2 linked regions of the Homo sapiens genome follow. Each later gene encodes a partner of the first gene's protein in a complex. Each region holds a gene or a part of one and is shown in the gene's direction. Other genes may lie near its edges.

Region 1 (7,661 bases):
ACCACCCTGGCCAACATAGTGAAACCCCATCTCTACCAAAAAATACAAAAATTAGCTGGGTATGGTGCTGCATCCCTGTGGTCCCAGCTACTCAGGAGTCTGAGGCACAAAAATCACTTGAACCTGGCAGGCAGAGGTTGCAGTGAGCCAAGATCGGGTCACTGCACTCCAGCCTGGGCAACAGAGGGAAAACCTGCCTCAAAAAAACAAAAACAAAAAAAAAAAAACAAAAACAAACAAACACCATTTGGCCAAATTCTTAAATTATACTGGAATCTTTTACCATAGGGCTAAGATCACTAAGACAATTCTATAGCTGAAAGGGACTTTAGACATTAACTTAAAGATTAGAAAAATGAGGCTTAGAAAAGTAAAACAACTTTCTCAAAGTTACTCAGTGAAGAAAAGGCAGGGCAGGGACTTGAACCAGACTTTTGATTCCACTGACTTTCCCAATGCTCAAACTAAGGCTCCAACCTACGTTCACTGTACCCCAAACATGTGCCTCCCCTTAAAGAGAACAATTATCACTGGCTGACTCTGCACTGACTGGTCTCACAAGAGGTCTTATCAAGTGAAGGTCGTTTAGTTTCCAGCCTGAGAAGGAGCTATCCATCTCAATGTGTGCATTTAACATAATGTATTGTTGATAGTAAATACTAGAACTTGGGCTCAAAGAGCTGGATCAAATTTAAGTCAAATTGTAGTACTGCATATTCCAGCCAGTTTATAGTAAAAGGTAAACTGGTTGATAAAATTGAATTTACCATGTTAATTTTATTTTCCTCCTAGGGAATGGCATCTTTGTGAAATGGGCAATTTTAATTCCTGAAACTCTAAGAGCAGCGTGCACACTTACAGCTAATATGTAGCAGAACCTGGATTTAGTGGACTTCTGTTGACTCCAAATTTTTCATGCGTCTTTTACTTCCACTCTACAATTGTTTTTGCTTTCTCTGGTACGAAAGTGGGTGAAAGTAACATCACAGAATAATACTGTTGAATGGAAATGTCTGTGAAACAAGCTGCCAGTATATTTTCTAGCCTATGGCTTTTAAAACTTGCTCCTTTACATGTTTCAGAGCTGCTCAGTCCTACTCAAAAAGTTTGACCTTTAGCTAGGATGATGACTTTTCTTCCAGCTGAATCAAAGACATCTGACTACATGACAAAAAGCCTGCTGCCAGCCATGGGGAAAATATTTAGAGAAGAGATTATTTCCTGCACCTGATTTTCCTCTCAATCAGCAAGCTGAGAGCTTTCAAATAGTAGTTTCACCTTCATGAGCCTATCATTTTCTTACCTAAGCCCAAAGATGTCTATTTTTGCCTCTTAGTCTCAAAGTAAAAGTTTCAAAGTAAAAACAAAAAAGTTATTCTGACTGCTGTCAAAGATAAACCCAGCCAGACATTCGTTAAAGTAGTGAAAACAGATTTTATTCAGTAAACCACTGATAGTAGGGGAAAGGGCTGAGCTCAATTCTCATTTGTGCAGAGGTGACTGGCCATTTTAAAAAAGAGAGTAAGGGAGTGGCAGGGAGCCAGCCGCAAGAAGAGTCAGAGAAGAGAAACCTTAAAGTGTTGGTCAGTGTAAACGCCATACTACCTGGCAATTAGTAAGTTACTATTCTATCCTCTCACACAGACTGGGAGACAAAGCCCCTATCCCTCCTGATGATTACGTTTCAAAGAAATGGCTCTCAAAGATACTTGAAGGGACACTTCAGAGTTGGAAGAGATACATATTAACAATTGTAAGCCTGTTTCGTAAATGCTCTAAAAAGGGAACGAGAGGGGTCTATCAATTAGGTGTTGACTAGAACAAACAGTAAATTCTCCCCCTAGCTTTGAGCTTTTTCAGGCAGGCATTTTAATGGCGGGGGCGGCGGGGGGCGGCCTGGGGTCACCCTAGGGGCAGGCCTTACATTGCTAGAAGATAAACTAGTGTCGATGTCTTTCAGTGCAGAAGTTTTGACTGAGTCATCACGTCCTAGGAGTTCTGCAGTTGTCACTACCTCGGGATAGTCCTCATCTTTATTTCCCCACAACTAGCTTGCTGCCTACTTAGTGCAAACAGCTATTAGAAAGTCAACAGGTGAAGGTAAAAAATTTAAAAACTTCATTTCATTAAGAGCTATTTAGTCACCGGGCAGAAAGAAATCTGGGCTTCAGGTTTGAATATAACTTTTATTTTAAGCATCCTCAGATTCTCTCAAAGGACAGAATGAGGAAAAACAACAAAACACCCCCACAGAGATAGGACCACAATAAAAGGGTCTAAATGTCAGGGTCAAAACTGATTTTCTGCTTCCTCACTGAAAAGAAAAAGGGAAAGCCAGGCGCGGTGGCTCCCATCTATAATCTCAGCCGCCAGGGAGGCTGAGGCCGGAGGATCACTTGAGCCCAGGGGTTTGAGGCTGCTGTGAGCTCTGATCATACCACTGCACCCCAGCCTGGGAGACCCTGTCTCTTATTAAAACAAACAAACAACAAACTAAATAAAAATAAACAGGATGAGGAGGAGAAAGGGAGCAAGTTGTTAGGCACATTTGAGAAAACGTCAAAATTTTCCTTACAAACTAGCCAAACACCTACAGTGATATGCCATTTTCCTGACAAAGAATTCAGGCCCCAAAAGAAAGGCAGCCCACAACTGAGCGTATTCCCAAGCATGAGTTCTTTCAAGAAATATTTTTTTGTGGACCTTCTATGGATTAAGACACTCTTTCATCCTGGAGAGAGCCCACAGTCTAGTGGGAGAGAAAGACACATAAACAAATATCTACTTTACAGCGTGATGACCGGTATTAACACAGGTCTGAACAAGGTGCAGCGGTGAGAGAGCAAAAGCAGTGCCTCAGAAACACAGGGATATCCTCTCACAGCAGGTGACATTTGGCGGGATCTTGGAAAATGAGTAAGGGGATCCAAGATCGAATCCGAGGGCTATGCTAGGGCGATTCGATTCCATCCCCACTTTGGCTTAGGGACCTCTTCTATATCCTCAGTAAACTTCCCTTCTCAGAGCATTTATTAAAACCTCCTTGGCCTTTCCAGACGAATGTCTGGCTACGTAAACTGTGAGCTCTGTAGGGCAGAGGTGGCGACGGTTCAGTTATATAAATCCAGTGCCCGGCTCAATAAGGGTATGTGGAATGGATGAATCCATTAATGAATAAAGACAGCAGACCTCCACAAAAGCCCGCCGGCCGGGCGCCTTTTCCTACCGGCTGGGATCGCTTCGTCCAGCCTGATTCACTCAGGAGGAATGCGCGAAGAGGCCGTCAGGAAGCCTCGCCCTAGACTCAAGAAAAGAACCTGGGAAAAGCTCAGGATCCTCCCAGGAAACAAGGACCCTCACTGTGGCCCAGGGTCTGAAGGGACCGCGCTCCGGGTTCCTAAACCTGTGAAAGCGGCTTATCCCATTCCTTTACTTACATTCGCGAGGGAAAGATTTCAATTCGGTCTTTGCCCGACATTCTGACGATAACTTTTCGGCTCGGGTCCCCGGCCGGGCAACCGAGGCTGCAATAGCTCCAGAACTGGCCTCCACAGTGTCTTCCTCTACGGGAGTCAGCTGGTTGTGTCACTTGACCCCTCTTGTTGCTAAGAGGCAGCAGGGACACCCATTTTCACTTCCGCTTCCGGTTGTCACAGGCGACGAAGGGGGAGGACAGAACAGAGGCGTTGCCCGGATGTCGAGGCGCGCGCACCGCGGAACCACCCCTCAATTCCGGTTCGCCTCCCAACCCCTCCCCATCCAGCTTCCCTGCGGCTGCGCAATACGCGGCACGCGCCAGGCCAAAGACTAGGAGCGAAGCGTGCACGCCTTGTCTTTCTCCACCTTTCGTCTTTGGTCACAGCGCCATCTCATGGTTAGCTGAAACTTTGAAAGAGGATTCATTCTTCAGAGGCAAGGAATCGGAGTCCTATGTCTTTCTCGCGCCTTGAAGGTTACTTAGCTAAAGCTAAGATAGCGAGAAACAGTACTTTTCAGGTCCTTCCATGATCTACATTCGTCCTTGTTCTCGGAGGACCCAGACTCTATGGTTAATGATGAAGAGGGGCCTCTATTCGTTCAGCGCTTGCGCATGCGAGGAGGTTCCGCATGCGCGGTGGAGTGAGCGAAGCGCACGCTGAGGAGGATCGGCGGCCGGTGAGGGGGAAGCAAGTCTGGTCTCTGTGATTGAAGAAGTCGGCTCTGGGCTCCAGTGCGGGAATCACACACATACCTCAGGTGACTAATCCCAAGCTCGGTTTCTCCAGGAACTCACTTTGGTTTGTGTCCAGTGACATGGGTGTTCGAGAGCGGGTAGGCCCCGGGCTAATACCTCCCTTTCCCGTCCCTGCGCGGGAAGTGGCTGGACAGCACCGCCACCACCCGCGCTGTCGTGGGCCTCCTCGCCGGCTCCGTGTAGGTCATCCTGTGTTCCAGAGGCATCGTTGTTCGAGCAGAGGAATCTCGTGAAGGAAAGTGGGCCGAGTGGATTGTACAGCCTCTACAATATGCCGAAAGTGAGAATGCCATGACGATGGGGCGGTCTCAGGAGAACGCTGTGACACCGTAACTCTTAACCCCGGCTCAGGACGCTGAGCACTTTGCTTTTTCCAGGCTTGAGAATTCCATCTTTTCTTCCGCCCCAACAGCTCTACCAAAAATTTCCCCTGCGTCTCAGTGGAAACCAAACTGGCCTCTTACCTGAGAAACCTGTGGGACGGGCACCGTGTTGGAAAGAGCGGGGTCCGAGTAGTTTTTCATCTGATAATTGAATGAGTCACCCCTTGAACCAAAACTAAATGAGACTTGAGTTTATTACTGTTACTATCAGTTTGTCGTATTTTGGCGACAATGAGAATAGAACTGTGTTAAGCATATGTTAGGTTAACTATGTTAGTTAAGCATAACTAAAACCTAAGATAAGGATATATTTTCGGGTTAAATACACAGTCATGCTGAGGTCTCTTTATCCTCAAAACTTAGGCTTTTTAAATTTTTATTAAGCAAAAAACATGGTTTCTTCGAGAAAAAGTATAGCAGAGAAGTCTTTATTTCCCCTCAATTGAGTTGTTATTCAAGGAACAATCTCTGTCAATAGTTTGGGGGTGACTTGTACAGAACTTTGCTACCTATTCTTAGTTCATCTGGTGCCAAAAGATGTAGTTGTCTCATGCACAGTAATGTTTGTAGAGATTCGGTGATAACTTTCTTTTTCAACTATAATGATGAAATAAAAGCTTTACTTATGTAGCACTCCTATACCAAGAACTAGCATTCAGAGAGCATTCCTAATACGTGTTAGATCCAAATTAGAATTATCACGAGAGTTGTCCCCATCACATAATATATTTTGGAAAGGAATGTGAACTTCTATATCCATTATAGCAGTTTGACCATGCACTGTTTTGAGAAAGAAGTCCTACCTACCATTTGTCATGCAAAATAACTGACTATGCAGGGTATTTGAAATTAGCCTGGAGTTTGGTTGATATATTTTGAAAGGTGGCTGATACTTTTTACATCAGAACACATAAGAGTATTATAGCATGTTGTGATATTGAGGTTCTGTGGGTTAAAGACATTCTGGATTTGATGTCGGATTACTTGAGTTTAGCTCCTACGCTAGTACTTATTAAGCATTTGTTCTTAAGGAAGTATTATAATTTAGTATTTCTGTTCCACCTTTCCTGTTCATTGCTTCACTGTGCCCTTTCATAGTACTTTGTATTGTAATTATTTGCTTGCTAGTTTGTTTCCCACTCTATACTTAATTACTTAGGTAAGAGTCTTTTTTTTTTTTCTTTTTTCTTTTTTCTTTTTTTTTTTGAGACAGAGTCTCTGTTGCCCAGGCTGGAGTGTAGTGGCACGATCTCAGCTCACTGTAGCCTCTGCCCCTGGGTTCAAGGGATTCTCCTGCCTCAGCCACTATAGTAGTGGGATTACAGGTGCCTGCCACCACACCCAGCTAATTTTGGTATTTTTAGTAGAAATGGGGTTTCACCATGTTGACCAGGCTGGCCTCGAACTCCTGGTTTCAAGTGATCCACCCGCCTCGGCCTCCCAAAGTGCTGGGATTACAGGTGTGAGCCACTGCGCCTGGCCTGGTAAGAGTCTTTCTTGTTGTATCATTAGTGCTTAGTACATAGTAGCTACTGAAAAAAAAATTAACAAATTATTATATTACAAAATGGAAATACCTTCTTTTTCTTTCAATATTTTATGTTTGACTAGCACATAATGGTTTTCAAAATGTTTTTACGTATACATGTGATACCCTCAGTAAACCTGTGATGTACATGGCACAGATGAGAAACTACAGTTCAAAGGATGTTATCTTTCCCAAGCAGCCACTTCTAGTAAGTAGCAGAGCAAGGACTGGAACACAAGGCTAGAGTTGTTCCCCGAGTTTACTATGTTAATTGCCTGATTTGACACTTCTTGAGGACCAAATAAAATAAGAATGCTGTGAAAAAGATAAAGAGGTGAAGTCACCTAGTGTGACTTCGATATTGCGGAATGATTTTTTTAAGTTAAAAAAAAAATTTAAGTTATTAGCATTTCATTAGGCAATATGTTCAAAAATTGTCAACCAATATGCAGGTTTTTGTGGTATGGATTCTTTTTGTACTTAACTACTATCTATCTTTACTATGAATAACATACCATCAACAGTATTCCTTTACTTACCCTTTATGTTGCAAAGAGACTTGTGCCTCCTGAAGAAATAGTATTCATAGTCATATCCCTTCAGGATTCTCTTACATGATTGCCCATGTTTTTTAACCATCAAATTAAGCCTTGCTTCCCCTAAAAGCATCACCTTTACTGTTTGGAGAAGCTTGGTAAGTAAATGTGGTTTTCACTGGTCAAATGTCTTGCAACTGTTCCATACATTTCTGTAACATAGTTTATTTTTATGCCCAATTTGAAACTTTTTAGCTCTCAAATTTGAGAGCTTTACATACACATATTCAACAACAGTTTCCCCACCCCCACCCTCGAAAAGCCCTGTTTAAAAACGAAACAAACAGTCAGCTGTTTCTTGGTGGGTAAGGCCATTGAATGTCTACTTCTCTTTATTTGCTAAATCCCTATTTTGTAGGGATTTTGTATTCCCTACAAAGAAATACATCTCTGCTACTGTCATTAATATGCTGCTCTTTGTTGTCAAACAGATGAGTACTAATAGTTTGCACTTATTGGTGTTATGTACTCTGGCACTGAATATATATTAATGTTGCTTTTTAAGTAAAATGTTTCTAATTATAATATATTTATGAATAGTTTTGAGAGAATATAGTCTTACTGATAAGAGGACAGACTCTGGATCCAGACTTCATGGATTCAAATCCTGACTCATCACCTGTTAGCAGTATGTGAAAGAACAAGTAACTTAACCTGTGCTTCAGTTTTTTAATCTATAAAATGGGGAGAACTAGGGAGAAAGTTGTACCACAAGGAGATAGGCAATGGCCAGATCATATAGGATTCTGTAGGTAGTGGAAAGATACATAAGTCAGTGGGAAGCCACTGAGAAGATATAGGCAGGTGCCAATTAATAAGTTATTATATGAATTTTCACAAGGTTTTCTTAGGCCTTTAAGTTCTGTTACTACCTACGTTTTGAGCAGTGACAACAGTGAAGGTTAACAGAAAAACATGAA
Region 2 (7,617 bases), on another chromosome or scaffold:
TGTCTTTCCATGCCTCAGCCTCCCAAAGTGCTGAGATTACAGGCGTGAGCCACCATGCCCAGCCACCCAGCTTTATTTCTATGTGTGCTTGTTTACTATCCGCTTCCTCTATTACAATCAAAACTCCATCACAGCAGAACCCTACCTGTCTTGTTCACTGATGTATCCCTAGCATCTAGAATAGTGCCTGGTATATAGTATGTACCTAGTAAATATTCACTGAATGAATGAATGAATTGAAGATACAGGTCGGGGCTGTGGCCCTAATGTGAACATCACATTCCTTGTTGGATCATTCCAGGGGAGACAATCCAGGGTCTGAGGGCGAATCTCACCAGTGCCATAGAAACCCTGTGTGGTGTGGACTCCTCTGTGGCAGTGTCCTCTGGCGGGGAGCTCTTCCTCCGCTTCATCAGTCTTGCCTCCCTGGAATACTCCGTAAGTGCCTGTTCTCCCTGGGGTTACCTTTCCACTTCTCTGTTTAGTGACAGACATTCTCAGCATTAACTGGATCTTCCCTGTCCCCTCAGTTTGCTCTTTTCTTCCTAGGATTACTCCAAATGTAAAAAGATCATGATTGAGCGGGGAGAACTTTTTCTCAGGAGAATATCACTGTCAAGAAACAAAATTGCAGATCTGTGCCATACTTTCATCAAAGATGGAGCGGTGAGTGGATAATCATCATGGTGGTAAGGAGGAGCAACGGTTTCGAGTCCGACTGCCTGGGGTAAAATCCGGGCTCTGCCACTCACTTGCTGTGGAGACTTGAACAAGTAACTTAACCTGTCTGTGCAGCTTTCTCATCTGTTAAATAAGGATGACAATAGTACCTACCTCCTTGGGTTGTTGTGAGGATTAAATGAGGCAAGACATGTAAGGGGCAAGGGGTGTGAGGGCTTGGTATTGTGCCTGGCACTTAGTAAGTGCTGCATGAATGTAGGTCTTGTTATTAGAGATGGTTGTCATTGTAAACAGGCAGAGAGGGACAGTGGGACAGCACGTGTGATTCTTGATTTATTTTATTTATTTATTTATTTATTTTGAGACGGAGTCTTGCTCTGTCACCCAGGCTGGAGTGCAGTGGCGCGATCTCAGCTCACTGCAAGCTCCGCCTCCTGGGTTCACACCATTCTCCTGCCTCAGCCTCCCGAGTAGCTGGGACTACAGGTGCCCACCAGCAAGCCCAGCTAATTTTTTTTATTTTTAGTAGAGACGGGGTTTCACTGTGTTAGCCAGGATGGTCTCGATCTCCTGACCTTGTGATCCACCCGCTTCGGCCTCCCAAAGTGCTGGGATTACAGGCGTGAGCCACCGCACCTGGCCCTGATTCTTGATTTAATACAGTGTTTTACTAAAGAAGTATTTTTATGATTGTATGTGTAGTAAATCTGAATTAACAGAACAGCTCTTGTCACTGGTTAACACTGAGGACTTTCTTAGTGAAGGTTAGCAATAGAGGGAAATTGAGGGAAATTTTCTTTTTAACTTCATTTTAGATGCTATTACAGAGATGTAAAGCCACGCAGTGTTTATAAGTGAGGAAAGACAGGAGGTGCAAGTTGAACCATCTTCCAGTAAAGGTGTAATGAAACTATCATAATGCCCCTCCCACCAGCATACGTCCTTTTGCCACCTAGGCCTCCCCTGATCATAAAATCATTTACTTGCATTTTGACTCTTAAATCTTGTCCTCCATTTTATTAGCCCCTTCCCAACCTTTGAAGTATGTTATTAAATAAATGGCATAATAGATGTGAGTGAAACTTGTAGAAAAGCCAGTTGCAAACGAAGCCTTTTTTGGGCAAGTGGAGGCAAGGTTGTGACTTCCTCTCGCTGGGGCCTTCTCCTTCCACAGACCTGCTGTGCCGTCAGTATTGTGCGGGTTTCGTTTGCTCTAGTGTAGTGTGGTATGTATGTACTTTACCTGCAGTCACCTACTCAGGACTGATTTAGACAAAATTTATAGCAGAGCTGCTCAGATTTGCACATGCAGAGGAGTCAGCTGGGGTCTTATTAAATGCAGATCGGGATTCAGTGGGTTTGGGCTAGGGTCCACGAACCTGCCTTCCTAACGGGTTCTCAGGTGAGACCCAGAAAGGAGCTAGAGAGCTGGTTCTGCCCCCTTGTCTTATTCTGTCTTCTGCACTCTTCCATAGAAAAGAGGTTATGGAGGCTGGGCATGGTGGCTCATGCCTGTAATCCCAGCACTTTGGAAAGCCAAGACACGCAGATTGCTTGAGTCCAGGAGTTCAAGACCAGCCCGGGCAACATGGCAAAACTTCATCTCTACTAAAAATACAAAAAGTTAGCCAGGCGTGGTGGCACACTCCTGTGGTCCCAGCTACTTGGGAGGCTCAGGTGGGAGAATCACCTGAACCCAGGAAGTTGAGGCTGCAGTGAGCTGAGATCATACCACTGCACTTCAGCCTGGGCAATTGGAGTGAGATCCTGTCTCACCAAAAAAAAAAAAAAAAAAAAAAAAAGAGGTTATGGGCCTACTGTGGTGGCTTATGTGTATAATCCTAGCCGGAGGTTCCCTTGAGGCCAGGAATTCAACACTAGCCTGAGCAACATAGGGAGAGAGGCCCTGTCTCTACAAAAAATAAAATAAATTAGCTAGTCACAGTGGCGCACATCTGTAGTCCCAGCTACTGGGGTGGCTGAGGTGGGAGGATCGTTTGAGCCCAGGATGTCGAGGCTACAGTGAGCCATGAACACTGCACTGCACTCCAGCCTAGGCATCAGAGCAAGACCTTGGCTCAAGAAAGAAAAGAAAACAGATTATGTCTAAGTGTCTACACATTGCATCCACGCCACAGATAGGTTGTGATTACCCCAAACAGTGTTTATAAATTCAAAAAAATTAGTTAGCCATCATTTCAAAATTGGATTTTTGAAACATCACCTGGTCTGGCAATCTTGGGGCCACATGACGCCAGCTGGGGCTGAGGAGTCCTGGCCCTCCTTAGCCTTTTCTTTTTGAGACAGAGTCTCACTCTCTTGCCCAGACTAGAGTGCACTGGCATGATTATGGCTCACTGCAGCCTCAACCTCCCAGGCTCAAGTGATCCTCCCACCTCGGCCTCCCAAGTAGCTGGGACTATAGGCACATGCCACTGCATCCAGCTAATTTTTTTTGTTGTTATTTTTTGTAGAGATGAGGTCTTGCCAAGTTGCCCAGACTGGTTTTGAACTCCTGGGCTCAGGCAGTCCTCTCACCTTGGCCTCCCAAAATGCTGGGATTACAGGCGTGAGCCACCACACCCAGCCTTCTGTAGCCTTTCGCTTTGCTGCTGGCCCCACCCAACCTGCTGCAGTGACTTCTGCTACCTACTTGGTTCCTGTAGGCCTGCGTGTGCAAACCATGTCTTAGAAATAGGAAAACCAACCCAAGGGAACCTCATGGAGCCTTCAGCTATCCAGGCTTTTGTATCCTTTGGGTAACACTGTGTGGGAGTTCCATTTCTGCACCTGCTACAGGATGTGAGACCTGGCAGAAACTTTTTTAGCTTGCACATGGGATGGAAACTGTACCATCAGGTCTCCTTTCTGGTTGTGGTTGATTTGTGAGAAAGTGTACAGAGATGCTTAGGGTGTCGGGAACACGTGCCGCAGTGCAGAGGGTGTGAGTGAGCAGCAAGGAGCCTGCCCCTTTGACAAAGCTTTCTCGGTCCACAGACAATATTGACTCACGCCTACTCCAGAGTGGTCCTGAGAGTCCTGGAAGCAGCCGTGGCGGCCAAGAAGCGATTTAGTGTATACGTCACAGAGTCACAGCCTGATTTGTCAGGGCAAGTACCTTTCTGTTCAGTTATGTGCCCAGCCATAATTTTACAGAGCAAACTGCGGATTACAGTCCAACAGGATCAGAACCAGAATGTGCCCCCAGCTTGCCAGCAGTCAGCACTGCCTTTCATTGTACCTTTTCCTGCCTTTGGAAGAAAAATCACTGAATTTGCAGCAGGCCGCAGTATATGATCTAGGGGTTTCACTTAAGTAGTTAACTCCGTGGAAGAGCAGAGATTGTATTGATGAAGATTTTTATCAAGGAATAGGTAACTTATATCTCCCTCTCTCTAGACGATAATCAAAGCAAAACTTCCTCCTTTTTTCCTGAATTTACATCTCTTACCCAGAGTCTAAGAGTATAGTTTTCCAAAAATACTTCTTTCTAAAGAACTCAAATTCTTGTTTCCTTAGTCCAAAGTATTGGGATCTGCCCCTTAACCCATTAGTATTAATGTGAGTTTCAAGCAAACATCCACTGTCCACATTAGGTGACATACATCACTGTGGTACTGTCTTGTACTTTCTCTAACGTTCTCAAAATGTCATCTTCAGTAAGAAAATGGCCAAAGCCCTCTGCCACCTCAACGTCCCTGTCACTGTGGTGCTAGATGCTGCTGTCGGGTGAGTGCCCATCTTCCCCAGCCATAATCACCTCCCCCACCCCATGCTGGCTTACAGCAAGTTTTCAGATTGAAAGTTTGAGTCCCGTTCATAAAGCCACACCAGGTAGCGTCCTACTTCTTAATTAATAGCTGCCCTAAACCAGCAAGCTTGTTATGAGGTTGTGATAGCATACAAAGAAGACAGAGCTGTAGGATGTTGGGGAGAGTGGGAGTTGTGTCTATAGCTTTATGGCTGTAAGTGTTGAGTTTGTTGTTGTTGTTGTTTTTGTTTGTTTGTTTTTTGTTTTTTTGAGATGGAGTCTTGCCCTGTTGCCCAGGCTGGAGTGCAATGGCATGATCTTGGTTCACTGCAATCTCCACCTCCCAGGTTCAAGCGATTCTCCTGCCTCAGCCTCCTAAGTAGCTGGGATTACCGGCGCATGCCACCATGCCACGTTAATTCTTTTATATTTTTAGTAGAGATGGGGTTTCACCATGTTGGCCAGGCTGGTCTCGAACTCCTGAACTCAGGTGATCTGCCCGCCTTGGCCTCCCAAAGTGCTGGGATTACAGGCGTGAGCCACCACGCCCAGCCAGTGCAAATGCATTTTAAGAGCAAAGTACAAAGGTCAGTTGGGATCAGCAGAGGGTAATCAGGGCTCTGTATTTCTGTGAAGACCTGGCTGTCCTCAGTGGCATACTGGGATGCTTTGTCTCACCTAGAAGATGCAGCTTGTGTCGCAAAGCCAAGTCACATGTTCCTGGGATTGTCAGTGTATTTCCCAAGAAAAAACAAGAGTAGTGATCTCTTGGAATGAAAACAAGATAGATGATTAAGGAAATTAGGAATGTGTTCAAAAGTAAGGATTTTGAGGAATTCTACTAATTGCTCATTTTAAAGACTAAATTGGCCTTCATCCTACCAGAAAGATTCTTAAGGTTGGGCACAGTGGCTCATACCTGAGGCAGGTGGATCGCTAGAGTTCAGGAGTTGGAGACCAGCCTGGGCAATATGGCGAAACCCCATCTCTAGGGCATGGTGGCATATGCTGTGGTCCCAGCTACCTGGGAGGCTGAAATGGGAGGATCGCTTGAGCCTAAGAGGTAGAGGTTTGGGCTGAGATCATGCCACTGCACTCTAGCCTGGGCAACAGAGTGAGATCTGGTCTCAAAAAAAAAAAGAAAGATTTTTAAAACTGCATAACACTTTTGTCCAACTTCAGATCTCATCAGATTTTAAAATTTTGTTTGGTTTGTGCTGAAGTAGAAAAGAAAGTAGAGGATACCACACTTGGAAGGAAGACTGCTGTGTCAGGACATTCTTGCTTCACTTACACACATATGTACGTGTGCATGCGCCGGGCGGCAGTGTGAAGTGTATGTCTCATTGTAGGGTCATGACCAGAAAACACCCCTGGTAACAATGCCAGGGGTCTATCGCGTGTTAAGTGCGCTTTAAAAAAAACAGGTAGTTATGGGAGGAACTTACCTTGATAGAAATGGAATATTGATCTTTGCAGATGATGATGCTACTCGTTAGAGCCAAGAAAATAAAGCATGAAAAGCTTTTTTTCCCCTTAGCTACATCATGGAGAAAGCAGATCTTGTCATAGTTGGTGCTGAAGGAGTTGTTGAAAACGGAGGAATTATTAACAAGGTAAGAGCATCAGTTCTCCCCAGTTCCCTGCTCAAGACTTGGAGGTGTCTTGCTGACCTAGGACACCACAGCAGTGTTGATTATGGTTCCTTCTAATCCTGCTTCACTTCAGGACTTCATCATGGTATTGAGTTGTTGCCCATTTCCCGTAAGTCATAGCAATGGGCAGTCCAGTTTCAGTCAAATCTTTTTTAGATTGATCTACATAAATGAAGACAATGTAATTTGGTCAGGTGTGATGCCTTATACCTGTAATCCTAGCAATTTGAGAGGCCAGGGTGGGAGGATCACTTGAGGCCTTGAGTTCAAGACCAGCCTGGGCAACATAGTGAAACCCTGTCTCTACAAAAAATTAGAAAAATTAGCTGGGCGTGGTGGTGCTTGCCTGTAGTTCCAGCTGCCCAGGAAGCTGAGGCAGGAGTATCACGTGAGCCCAGGAATTTGAGGTTGCAGTAAGTTATGATCACACTACTGCATTCCAGCCTGGGCGATGGTGAGACCCTGTCTCAGTAAAAAAAAAAAAAAAAAAAGTGTAATTTATATTTATACAAAATTGGCTTGAATTGGAATTGGGGTTTGTCTGGTTTTTGCTTTATTTATGTGTATATGTATGTTTTATTTATGCATATATATACACACACATAATATATATACACAAATATTTTTAAAATATTATTTATATATTTACATATAAAGTATGTATGTATAAAATACGTGTATTTATATATAAATATTATATATATTTTAAAATAGAGACACATTCACTCTGTTGCCCAGGCTGTAGTGTAGTACAGTGATCATAGCTTACTGCAGTCTTGAACTCCTAGCCTGAAGCAATCTTTCCACTTCCCAAAGTGCTAGGATTACAGGCATGAGCCACTGTGGCCGGCCTGTCATTTGTTTTCATTTTAATTGAGCACATTTGACCTCAATTTATTACAATCTCTCTCTCCATTATTTAATTTAGAAAAGCTTCATGAAAGCTTTTTTTAGTTAAAATATATGTAACATAAGGCCGGGCGTAGTAGCTCACGCCTATAATCCCAGCACTTTGGGAGGCTGAGGCAGGTAGATCATCTGAGGTCAGGAGTTCGAGACCAGCCTGGCCAACATGGTGAAACCCCATATCTACTAAAAATACAAAAAATTAGCTGGGCATGGTGGCGGGTGCCTGTAATCCCAGCTACTTGGCAGGCTGACGCAGGAGAATCGCTTGAACCTGGGAGGCGGAGGTCTGCAGGCAGAGTGTTGAGTCACATGGTAACTATATATTTAACTTTCAGAAACTAATGATTTTCCACAGCAGCTGCACTACTTTACATTCCCACTAGCAAAGCACAAAGGTTCCAATTTCTCTACATCCTTGCCAACACTTGTTTTTTTAAATTTTTTTATTTTTTGAGATGGAGTTTCACTCTTGCTGTCCAGGCTGGAGTGCAATGGCACAGTCTTGGCTCACTGCAACCTCCAGTGCCCGGGTTCAAGCGAGTCTCCTGCTTCAGCCTCCCTAGTAGCTGGGATTACAGGCACCCCCCATCCCACCATGCCCAGCTAATTTTTTGTATTTTT

What was found. Proteins that work in one complex are often made in the same cells at the same time.
Region 2: the proteins of EIF2S1 (region 1) and EIF2B1 are in contact, whole or in part, in a cryo-EM structure (PDB 6K72), measured with the Homo sapiens proteins. Residues at the interface, in NP_004085.1 of Homo sapiens: Ala28, Glu29, Met30, Tyr33, Gly44, Met45, Leu47, Leu48, Arg75, Lys80, Tyr82, Ile83, Asp84, Arg88; in NP_001405.1 of Homo sapiens: Gly39, Thr41 (codon at 307), Ile42 (codon at 310), Gln43 (codon at 313), Gly44 (codon at 316), Leu45 (codon at 319), Arg46 (codon at 322), Ala47 (codon at 325), Asn48 (codon at 328), Glu70 (codon at 394), Arg74 (codon at 406), Ser77 (codon at 415), Ser80 (codon at 424), Leu81 (codon at 427), Glu82 (codon at 430), Tyr83 (codon at 433), Ser84 (codon at 436), Asp85 (codon at 550), Tyr86 (codon at 553), Cys89 (codon at 562), Leu305.

What each region holds. Positions count from the first base shown.
Region 1 is NC_000014.9:67,356,221-67,363,881, forward strand, and holds the start of EIF2S1 (eukaryotic translation initiation factor 2 subunit 1), read left to right. Parts: upstream 1-4,107; 5' UTR 4,108-4,236; intron 4,237-7,661. Other genes in the region: ATP6V1D (V-type proton ATPase subunit D), read right to left, coding at 3,438-3,478. UniProt on the Homo sapiens protein: Member of the eIF2 complex that functions in the early steps of protein synthesis by forming a ternary complex with GTP and initiator tRNA. This complex binds to a 40S ribosomal subunit, followed by mRNA binding to form a 43S pre-initiation complex (43S PIC).
Region 2 is NC_000012.12:123,623,218-123,630,834, reverse strand, and holds part of EIF2B1 (translation initiation factor eIF2B subunit alpha), read left to right. Parts: intron 1-301; coding exon 302-438; intron 439-549; coding exon 550-666; intron 667-3,678; coding exon 3,679-3,791; intron 3,792-4,341; coding exon 4,342-4,410; intron 4,411-5,972; coding exon 5,973-6,048; intron 6,049-7,617.